Regions from separate parts of the Homo sapiens genome. Here region 1 is linked to region 2. Evidence: fine-mapped QTL for protein levels in blood plasma. A gene starts in region 2. The other region holds a variant in brackets. All regions are shown on one strand. Distances are between the middles of the regions.

The links. A credible set is the group of variants that fine-mapping cannot tell apart. PIP is the posterior inclusion probability: the model's chance that the variant is causal. The UK Biobank Pharma Proteomics Project read protein levels with antibody pairs (Olink). The fine-mapping took linkage between variants from a reference panel, not from the people measured, so its PIPs are less certain.
Region 1: its variant is the best candidate, but not a certain one, in a credible set for the plasma level of the PLAT protein (UK Biobank, PIP 0.60). The variant lies in the coding sequence of PLAT. If it changes the protein, the assay may bind it differently, which can mimic a change of level.

What each region holds. Positions count from the first base shown.
Region 1 is chr8:42,184,274-42,189,648 of GRCh38, reverse strand. PLAT (plasminogen activator, tissue type) reads left to right here. Exons shown (of 14, transcript NM_000930.5): 4 at 578-715; 5 at 1,633-1,743; 6 at 2,077-2,251; 7 at 4,477-4,568. Among named protein-coding and RNA genes, the nearest start is that of PLAT, 21 kb to the left of the region's middle. RefSeq lists enhancers at 1,444-2,014, 2,015-2,586. The variant C/T (reference allele first, on the strand shown) is at 2,202.
Region 2 is chr8:42,205,487-42,210,861 of GRCh38, reverse strand. It overlaps PLAT (plasminogen activator, tissue type), which reads left to right and starts at 3,297. Exons shown (of 14, transcript NM_000930.5): 1 at 3,297-3,368. RefSeq lists enhancers at 1,759-2,277, 2,278-2,796.

The DNA of each region.
Region 1 (5,375 bases), 21 kb after region 2:
CCAGCCTGGGCGACAGAGTGAGACTTTGTTTCAAAAATAATAATAATAAATAAATAATAAATAAATAAATCATATGAGAAGATACTCAATGGCACTCAGAAAAGAAATGCAAATTTATTTTATTTTATTTTGAGATGGAGTCTTGCTCTGTCGCCCAGGCTGGAGTGCAGTGGTACAATCTCGGCTCACTGCAACCCCCACTTCCTGGGTTCAAGCAATACTCCTGCCTCAGCCTCCTGAGTAGCTGGGATTACAGGCACCTGCCACCATGCCTGGCTCATTTTTGTATTTTTAGTAGAGATAGGGTTTCACCATGTTGGCCAGGCTGGTCTCGAACTCCTGAGCTCAAGTGATTCACCCACCTCGGCCACCCAAAGTGCTGGGATTACCAGCATCAGTCACCGTGTTTGGCCAGTATTCATTATCTTGTTGTCTTCCAGTTGTGTCTCTTCAATAAGGGAGTATGCAATGGAGTCTATAGAAAGCAAGTGAGGGAGTTTTCTCAGTAGGTGCAAGGGTAGTGAGGCATTTCATTTTGAGTCATACTCTGATGAGGCTGGCCTGTCTTTTCTCATAGTGATCTGCAGAGATGAAAAAACGCAGATGATATACCAGCAACATCAGTCATGGCTGCGCCCTGTGCTCAGAAGCAACCGGGTGGAATATTGCTGGTGCAACAGTGGCAGGGCACAGTGCCACTCAGTGCCTGTCAAAAGTATGTACTGAGGCTGGGAGGTGGTGCATGCCTGTGATCCCAGCACTTTAGGAGGCCAAGGTGGGAGGGTCGCTGGAGCCCGGGAGTTCAAGACCAATCTGGGCAAACATAGCAAGTCCCCTGTCTCTACAAAAAATAAAAAAATTAGCCAGACCTGGTATGTAGTCCCAACTACTTGGGAGGTTGAGGCAGAAGGATCACTTGAGCCCAGGAGTTGGAGGCTGCAGTAATCTACGATTGTGCCACTGCATTTCAACCTCAGTGACAGGGCAAGCCCTCACCTCTAAAACAAAACAAAACAACACAAACAAAAACAAAAACACAGAAAAGCCCAGTACAAATCGACTTCAAACTGAGACTTCGAGTTCAGGGGTCCAGTCATGAACCCTGTCTTTCATGGTCCCCGGAAAGTTCAAATCTTCAAAAGGAGCCTCCAGGCCTGTTCGGCCTTAGGCGGAGGTGAAGGTACAAGCAGAAAAGGGAGCAAGACCAAGTGACCTTGGGCAAATGCCCGCTTGCCTCAGTTTCCTCATCTATAAAGAGGTGGGAATAACAGTACACACTTCATGGTTTGCTGTGAGGATTAAATTAGCTAATTTTTGTAGACTGTACAACAGCGCCTGGCACATAGAGCACATTCTTAATATTTTAACTCACATCATCCTTGGAGCTGCTTTGAAAATACAGGGGACCCTTGAACAACACTTGTCTGACCTGCAGGGTCCACTTATGTATGGATTTTTTTCAACCAAAGGCAGGATGAAAACAGTATTTGTAGGATGCAGAACTGGTATACGCGTGTTCCACGCTGCAGGACTTGAGTGTGTGTGGATTGTGGTAGACAGGGCTCCTGGAACCATGGCCTGAGCACACAGAAGGAGGCTGTCATTAGGGGCTTCCTTTTTTATACTTGACAGGTTGCAGCGAGCCAAGGTGTTTCAACGGGGGCACCTGCCAGCAGGCCCTGTACTTCTCAGATTTCGTGTGCCAGTGCCCCGAAGGATTTGCTGGGAAGTGCTGTGAAATAGGTGAGTAGGTGAGAGCACGTGAAACGAGCTGAAATCCCACCTCTCCAGTCTCCCCCGCCCCCGGAAGGAAAGGCAGGGTGCGATGGCAGGGCCAGGGGTGGGGGCCAGGGACAGGGAAGGCGCTTCTGCCATGGGTCAGGAAGCACAGTGCCACACAGCAAGCAGAGCCTAGGTGTGACCCTGAATCCAGGCTGGCACCCTTGCCACCCAGCCTGTGGCTTCCGAGCCAGCCTGCATCAGGCCTGGGGGAGGACGGGGCAGAGAGGGGAGCCTCCTGAGGGCTGAATGAAAGGGGACTCCCATGTGAGGCATCCATGCCCTGCTCTCTGTCAGATACCAGGGCCACGTGCTACGAGGACCAGGGCATCAGCTACAGGGGCACGTGGAGCACAGCGGAGAGTGGCGCCGAGTGCACCAACTGGAACAGCAGCGCGTTGGCCCAGAAGCCCTACAGCGGG[C/T]GGAGGCCAGACGCCATCAGGCTGGGCCTGGGGAACCACAACTACTGCAGGTGAGGGCACATCCCCAAGGAGGGATTCCCCCTGTGAGAAGCTGCTACAGCTGGGGAAAGATTCTGTCAGATCCGTCAGGGTTCTCCCAAGAAACATAACCAATACAGGATGGATAGATGGATAGATGATAGACAGATAATAGATGATAGGTGATAGATGATAGATTGATAGATGATAGATGATAGGTGATAGATTAGATAAATAGATGATACATACATGATAGATAGATGATAAATAGACGGTAGATGGATGACAGATAGACAGATGATAGGTGATAGATAGATGATAGATTGATAGATGATTGATAGATAAATAGATGATAGATACATAGATGATAGATGGTAGATAGATGATAGATGGATAGATGATAGATGATAGGTGGTAGATGATAGACAGATGATTAGAAAGATAGATGATAGATACATAGATGATAGACACATAGATGATAGACAGATTGACAGATGATAGATGATTGATAGATGATTAAATAGATGATACATAGATGATAATGATAAATAGATGATAGATGATAGATGATAGGTGATAGATAGATTGATAGATGATAGAAGATTGATAGATGATAGATACATAGGTGATAGTAGATGTAAGATGATAGATGATAGATAGATAGATGATAGACAGATTGATAGATGATAGAGAGATAGAGATAGAGAAAGAGGAGAGAGAAATAGAGAGAGAGAGAGAATGTGTGTGAACCCAAAGTATCTGAGACAGGTCTCAATCGATTTAGAAAGTTGATTTTGCCAAGGTTAAGGACACCCCCGTGACACAGCCTCAGGAGGTCCTGAGGACATGTGCCCAAGGTTGTCAGGGCACAGCTTGCCTTTAGACGTTTTAGGGAGTCATGAGACATCAATCAACATGTGTGAGATGTACATCGGTTTGGTCGGGAAAGTTGGGATAACTCGAAGCAAGGGCTTCCAGGCCATAGGTAGATAAGAGACAAAAGGCTGTATTCTGAGTCCTTGATCAGCTTTTCACTGAACACACAATTGAGTCTGGCTCAGTTCATCTGCATTTTTACATAAAAAATAGGGCAGAGGAAGCAATCAGATACGCATTTGTCTCAGATGAGCAGAGGGATGATTTTCTGTCCTGCACCTGGGAAGATAAGCTATCCATTTACAATGCCAAGGTGAAAGTCAACAGAACTGTTTTAGGGTAAAGATCTTTAGGCCTGCAAGGAATGTCCTTGTAGAGAATTAAAAAAAAAAAAAAAAAACTTTGCAGCTATCTTATTGAGGAATAAATGAGAGGCAGGTTTGCCTGACGTAGTTCCCGGCTTGACATTTCCCTTGGCTCATGACGTTGGGGTCCTGAGATTTATTTTCCTTTCACACTAGATAGATAGACATTTATGTTAAGGAACTGGCTGACAGGATCGTGGGGGCTGGCAAGTCCGAAACATCTTGGTAAGCCAGGCTGGAAGTGCAGGCAGAAGCTGAGGCTGCTCTCTTAAGGCAGAATTTCTTATTCAGGAAACCTCATATTTGCTCTTAAGGCCTTTAAGTGATTGGACGAGGCCCAACTACATTATCTAGGACAATTTCCTTTTCTAAAGTCAACTGGCTGTAGATATTAACCACATCTATAAAACACTTTCACAACTCCTAGATGAATGTTTGGTTAACTGACTGGGTGCCACAGCCTGGCCAAGTTGACATATAAGACTATTCCAGTCCACACCTTGTCAATTTGGCACCCATGTGCATCTCCTTAAACCATCCTTCACCTCCAAGTAAACACAGGAACAAAATCATACTCCTGCCTAACATGATAGAACTACCAGTGTACAACCAAAAACGCACTCCCGGCTGGGCGTGGTGGCTCACGCCTGTAATCCCAGCACTTTGGGAAGCCAAGGCAGGTGGATCACCTGAGGTCAGGAGTTCAAGACCAGCCTGGCCAACATGGTGAAACCCTGTCTCTACTAAAAATACAAAAATTAGCCAGGCATGGTGGCAGGCACCTGTAATCCCAGCTACTCGGGAAGCTGAGGCTGAAGAATTGCCCAAATCCAGGAAACGGAGGTTGCAGTGAGAGGAGATGCGCCGCTGCACTCCAGCCTGGGATAAACAGCGAGACTCTGTCAAAAAAAAAAGCACCCCCCATTCCTCCAGAAAAGGATACCAAAGTCCTTGGGTCCTAAAGGAGAGGCTTCACCTTTGACCTACCCTGGCCCTTCCCTTGGCTGATTTTTCAGAAACCCAGATCGAGACTCAAAGCCCTGGTGCTACGTCTTTAAGGCGGGGAAGTACAGCTCAGAGTTCTGCAGCACCCCTGCCTGCTCTGAGGGTAAGTGGCAGCCACCCCGCCTTTCCCTGAATGTCCCTGGGGGAGGAAAGTCCAGGAGGACAGGCCGATAGCCCTCCTGCACCTGAGGGGAGAAAGGGGGAGGCCAGGAGTGAGTCATTTTGGTTGCAGAGGGAAGAAAGACAGGACTTAGGTCTGTGCCTGGGCTTGGCCTCTGACTGGCTATTTGTCTGACCTGGAGCTGATCTCCTCACACTCTGACCCTCAATTTCCTCCTCTATGGAGGAGAGGATGGGGCTGAATCAGTGGTTTTCAGTCCTTTTGAGAATGAATGGAGATTCTCCCTTTTTTGATTAATGGGTGAATGGGGCTTTGTCTCTCTTTCGCTCCCTCTCAAACTTTTTAATGCAAAAAAAAAAAAAAAAAAACTTCCAAGATTGAAAAAATATATATTAAGTTACAAGACCAGGCACAGTGGCTTATGCCTATAAACCCAGCACTCTGGGAGGCTGAGGCGGGCGGCTCACCTGAGGTCAGGAGTTTGAGACCAGCCTGGCCAACATGGTGAAACCCTGTCTCTACTAAAAATACAAAAATTAGCCGGATACGGTGGCAGGCACCTGTAATCCCAGCTACTCAGGAGGCTGAGGCAGGAGAATTGCTTGAACCTGGGAGATGGAGGTTGCAGTGAGCCGAGATCATGCCACTGCACTCCAGCCTGGGTGATAGAACAAAAAACTGTTTCAAAAAAAAGAAAAAAATGAAATGCTAAGTTACAGAAAGGTACTATGAATTCAGTGGTGCTTATACAAATCATTACGTTACTTATCACATTTATCACAGCACTAT
Region 2 (5,375 bases):
GCATGTACAGTTCACAATAGGGTTTGCACTCCTATGAGAATCTAGTGCCACTGCTGATCCAACCGGAGGTGCAGCTCAGGCAGTAATGCGAGTGATGGGGAGCGGCTGTAAACACAGATGAAGCTTCACTGGCTCTCCAGCCACTCACCTCCTGCTGCGCAGCCTGGTTCCTAACAGGCCACGGACAGATACCAGCCCATGGCCCCAGGGCCGGGGATTCCCAGTCTAGATGGAGACCTAGACAAGGCGTGCGACAATAACACCGATTTTAGATCCATCATGACATTTACCCCATCCCCTGCAAAGCCAGATGGCTACCAAAATTAAATCTTAGTTTAGACACAGAATGTCCGTCTTCTGGTCCAAAACATCCTTGTCATAAGTTTCTTGGCTGGGCGCGGTGGCTCACACCTATAATCCCAGCACTTTGGGAGGCTGAGGCAGGTGGATCACGAGGTCGGGGGTTTGAGACCAGCCTGACCAACATGGTGAAACCCCGTCTCTACTAAAAATACAAAAAAATTAGCTGGGCGTGGTGGCGGGCACCTGTAATCTCAGCTACTCAGGAGGCTGAGGCAGGAGAATTGCTTGAACCTGGTGGAGGTTGCAGTGAGCCGAGATCACACCACTGCACTCTAGCCTGGGCGACAGAGCAAGACTCTGTCTCAAAAAAAAAAAAAAGAAAATAAAAAAAAAAAAAACAAGTTTCTTGCCCACTCTTCCTTTCTCTGAGTTTCCAGAGACATCACATCATTTCTTACCCAGCTGAGCAGAGTCCCAGCATGGCTCTCGTTCGAATACCCATCCTGCCACCTGCCCCAGTGAGAAGGGTTGGAGCAGCCCCTGTTCTCTGCCCCCGCCACCTCCATGACTCATGCATTCTGTGGGGGAGGCGCCCACTGCAGAAACAGCCAGGCTGGCTGGGAAAAGCCCTGCAGCAATTCCCCGTCCAGTTTCTCTGTGCCCACTTTGTCTCCGTGTTATCTAGGCCTGGATTTATTTCTCTTTTTTGAAAATGAAGGGCTTTGATGAAATGTTCACAGGATGTGAGGTCACCAAGATTTTTTTCCTTTTTTTCTGTTCTTTTCTTTTCCTCGAAGTGATCCCTTGACTAAAATCAAGGCTCCCATTGTCACCTTATCAGCCTGCCCATGCCTAATTCTGCATTCTCAGGCTTCCCCAGAATCTGTCCGAGGGAAACCAATCTCAATTCAGAAGGAACACAGAGGCCCCAGTTTCTAGGGCTGCAGGATATTGCTGGGTCTTAATCATTCGGGTATATTTCAGCAAAGCTCAGGGCCCCTGCTAATGATCTGCAAACCCTCTCCTCTCAGTCTCCCGTTGTTTAGCCCCTATTTATAAGTGAGTGCATGTGGTTGTTCACTTTCTGTTTCTGAGTTATTTCAGTTAGGATAATGGTCTCCAGTTTCATCCATGTTGCTCCAAAAGACAGACTTCATTGTTTTTTACGGCTTTGTCGTATTCCTCGGTGTATATGTGCATTTTCTTTATCCAGTCCTCCATTGATGGACACTTAGGTTAATTCTGTGCCTTTGCTATTGTGAATTGTGCTGTTGTGAATTGTGTGTGATAAACGTGTGAGTGCAGGTGTCTTTTTGATGTAATGATTTCTTTTTCTTTGAATAGATACTCAGTAGTGGGATTGCCGGGTCAAATGGATGTTCTATTTTTAGTTTGGGAAATCTCCATATTGTTTTCCATAGAGGTTCAGGATCCAGGATTTAAGTGCAACCATTCAGTGGAAAACCATCCTCTCAAGAGTTCAAATGAGAGTCCTCATGACCAGCACTCCCTGCTGAACGGCAATGCCCCACCCCCCAAAAAAGCCTCCATCCTCACCATCTTAGACCACATTGCAGGAAAGCAGCCCCATGCCCACCAGACAGGCCCACAGCTGCTGCTGCTCATGGGAGGTCTACCTCCCGTGCTCAGCAGGCAACCCACCCCAGTGCCCCTTTTCTACAATGACCATCAGCAGGGCTGCAGCTTCATAAAAATGTGAAAAACAGTTTGAAAGCAATGTGAAAAGCAGTTAGGTGCCTTTCAACTTCAAACTCAGCACTCATGGTTTGACAAATATGAGTATATTTAGGATCAGAATGTATGAAATCTGGCCTCTCCTGAATAGTCGGTCATCCCACAATTTCCTCTGCCAAACTTCTCTTCCCTCCCTGCGTTCTTTCTTTCACCTCTCTCTCATTTTTACAAGGTCTGGTCTCAGCCAGACATGAACCAATGATGATAGATGCTCCTGCTGAGCCCTGTGATGTGCCAGGGCCCTGACATGCGTGGCTTCTCTCTGATCCTCACGTGACCTGCAGATGCAAAAGCCAGAGCTCAGCATAGTTGAAAATCTTGATTGAGGTCATATCCCAGTTACTGGCACAGCCGGATTTAAACCTAAGACTTTCCCCTACACGACAGGGCTTTTATTTCTCAGTCATCTGAAAAGGTGTCAGCAAGGGAAATGGCTTGTCTATTTCCAGGGGCATTTTACAAGCAAATACTGAAAGGCTTCGGTGGGCTTAAGGGCTGATGGCTTTGATCGAATTTCAGGCATGTTGGCCCCAAGGCCCTGTGTATATTCCCTGGGCCCACTCAAGGGGATGCTGGAGCCGGAAAGTCCCCGGAGGCCACCTACTGCAGCCCTGCACTTTACAAAGAAGAGAAAGATTCTCCCTAAAATTACAGAACAGGGCCAAAGATGCCTACCGGAGCAAACCCCCATGGGGGCACCTCCTACCGCAGGTGAGCCCAAGGCTGGTCCTGCCTTCTCAGTGGCTACCCCCCTGAGCTCCCGCCACCACACAAAGTGTTCCAATCCTTGTGCATCCTCCAGTCCTTTTAACCTCTCATGTCCTGAGAGGCCAGAGCTACAGCCACAGATTCCAGAAGACACCCCACTCCCAGCCCCAACCTGCTGCCTTTAGAATTATAAACACTTCTTGTCATCACAGGGTCCTGAAAGTCCCTTTTAAGCCTGGGACACTAGGACTCTAAAGGAAGATGATTCTTAAGGTCCCATCCCACTTCCAAATTCCTGCGATTCAATGACATCACGGCTGTGAATAATCAGCCTGGCCCGAAGCCAGGATGGGCTGTGCTGCTTCCACCGTGAACTTCCTCCCCCTGCTTTATAAAAACAGGCCTGCCTCAGCTCCCTCATGGCCCTGTCCACTGAGCATCCTCCCGCCACACAGAAACCCGCCCAGCCGGGGCCACCGACCCCACCCCCTGCCTGGAAACTTAAAGGAGGCCGGAGCTGTGGGGAGCTCAGAGCTGAGATCCTACAGGAGTCCAGGGCTGGAGAGAAAACCTCTGCGAGGAAAGGGAAGGAGCAAGCCGTGGTAGGTCGGGTTTCTGTACCTTGGGGTCTGTCTCCTCTTCTTTCTCTTAAAAGTCTTTCCAGCAAGCTGAGCCAGTGAAGGAATGCTTTAACCAAGGGACCAACTTTGTAATTCAGGCAACTAGAGGATCCGCTAGAATCCACTCCAGAGGGGAGATGTCTGTTTGCATTTGCATGTGATTGGGATAGGCTGGAGTGTTTTGGAGGGGAGAGGCAGTCGGGGAAAGGGAGACTAGGGAGGTTGCATTCATTGGAGAAGCCTCTGCTGACAGAGTAAAGGGGAAAGTGAAAAGAACGATACAGAAAAGCCCCAAATAGCCTATGGGAGTACCTCAAGACGAGCAAGCAATAAAAGCAAAATCGGCTGCCTTGGGACACGTGCCTGTGACAGCTGGGAGGGCCCGCTGGGTCCCCTAGTTTCCTCCCTCCCCCGATGAACCCCCAGAAAGGAACTGAGGCTGTGGATGGGGCAGAGGGGGACTTACTTCCAGAGCACTATTTGCTAGGTGCTGGGAGAGAGAAGCAGGTGGCTTTCACACCCCACATTACCCCGTGGGATAGAGAAATGCCTCTGATCTCCCTAGGTGCCACCCCTACAAGTCTCCACAGGTCAGTTTGGCCCTCTGGCTTTTTGCCCAGGGTGCATCAGTCAAGTGTGCAGTCCTCCTTAAAGGACATTTTAATTACAGGGGAAAAAACTGACATTAATGTCTTTTATTCCTAAAGCACTCTGCAGGAAGCATGTGGGGTTCTCCAGATTTTCACTGTTATTATCTTTATTTTCTTAACCTCACAGGGAGGGAGAGAGGAAGGGAGGGAGGGAAGACGAAAACACGCCGAGGTCCCAGGTAACTAATGACAACTCAAGCTCAAAGAAGTGTGGTAACAAGGATGTGTTTGGTGGCCAATTGGGAATAATATGGTGGTCTCCTGTAGCTGCTTGATGACAGAAAAAATGTCGTGTGTGTGTGTATGCGTGTGCATTGCAGTCCCGGGAAGGGGTCTTGCAAATACCATTGTCAGGTGGAGTCCCCTCAAAGGTGACTTCCTAGCAGTACTTGCTGTGGCAAGAACGCTCATTCTGGGATCTAGACTCAATCCATGACGGTCAGCATGAGCTGCTGGGTGCGTGCTTCCTGTGCAGGCAGAGTCGGACTCCAGCACTGGCAGGGACACTGTGAGTATTGAGATATGAATAGCTCCATCCTGCCCACCCATTTATTCCACCTAAAATGTTCTCAAAGATGCAAGCCTCCAAGCTCTGGATCAAATGATAAAGCCCCAGATCAAAATCTCAGGAGCAAATGAAAGCTGCCCTTGTCTCCAAAATGCTCCTTCTCTGCCCGACTCCCCAAGACCAGCTTGGTTTATTTCACAATGACTCGCGTCGGATTCTCCCAGTGTCTGCGGCTCCCCCTGCTTCATCACAGGCCTGGGACAGTCCAGGCAGCCAGGGAATAGCTGGGAATAGCAGTTCCCCTTTGTTGGTTTTTGAGTTCACTGAGGCTTTGATTTCCCCCAGGGCCTGACGTTGCTGAGCAGAGCCAGCGGCCAGTAGATTTCAAAGGATTCCAAAAAACAGTCAGGCACTCCTTTGTGAACCCAAAAGTATCTGAGACAGGTCTGTCAATTTAGAAAGTTTATTTTGCCAATGTTAAGAACACACATGTGACACGGCCTCTGGAGATCCTGAGGACATATGTCCAAGGTGGCCAAGGTATGGCTTGGTTTCATACATTTCAGGGAGACATGAGACATTAATCAATGTATGTAAGATGTGCACCGGTTCGGTCTGGAAAGGCAGGACAACTCGAAGTAGGGGCTTCCAGGTCATAGGTAGATAAGAGAAGGCTTCATTCTTCTGAGTCTTTGTCAGCCTTTCACTGAATACACAATTTACATATGAGAGGGGGGCAGAGGAAGAGTCACTTATGCCTTAGTTGGCTCAGTGAATCTACTTTTTTTTTTGAGACGGAGTTTCACTCTTTTTGCCCAGGCTAGAGTGCAA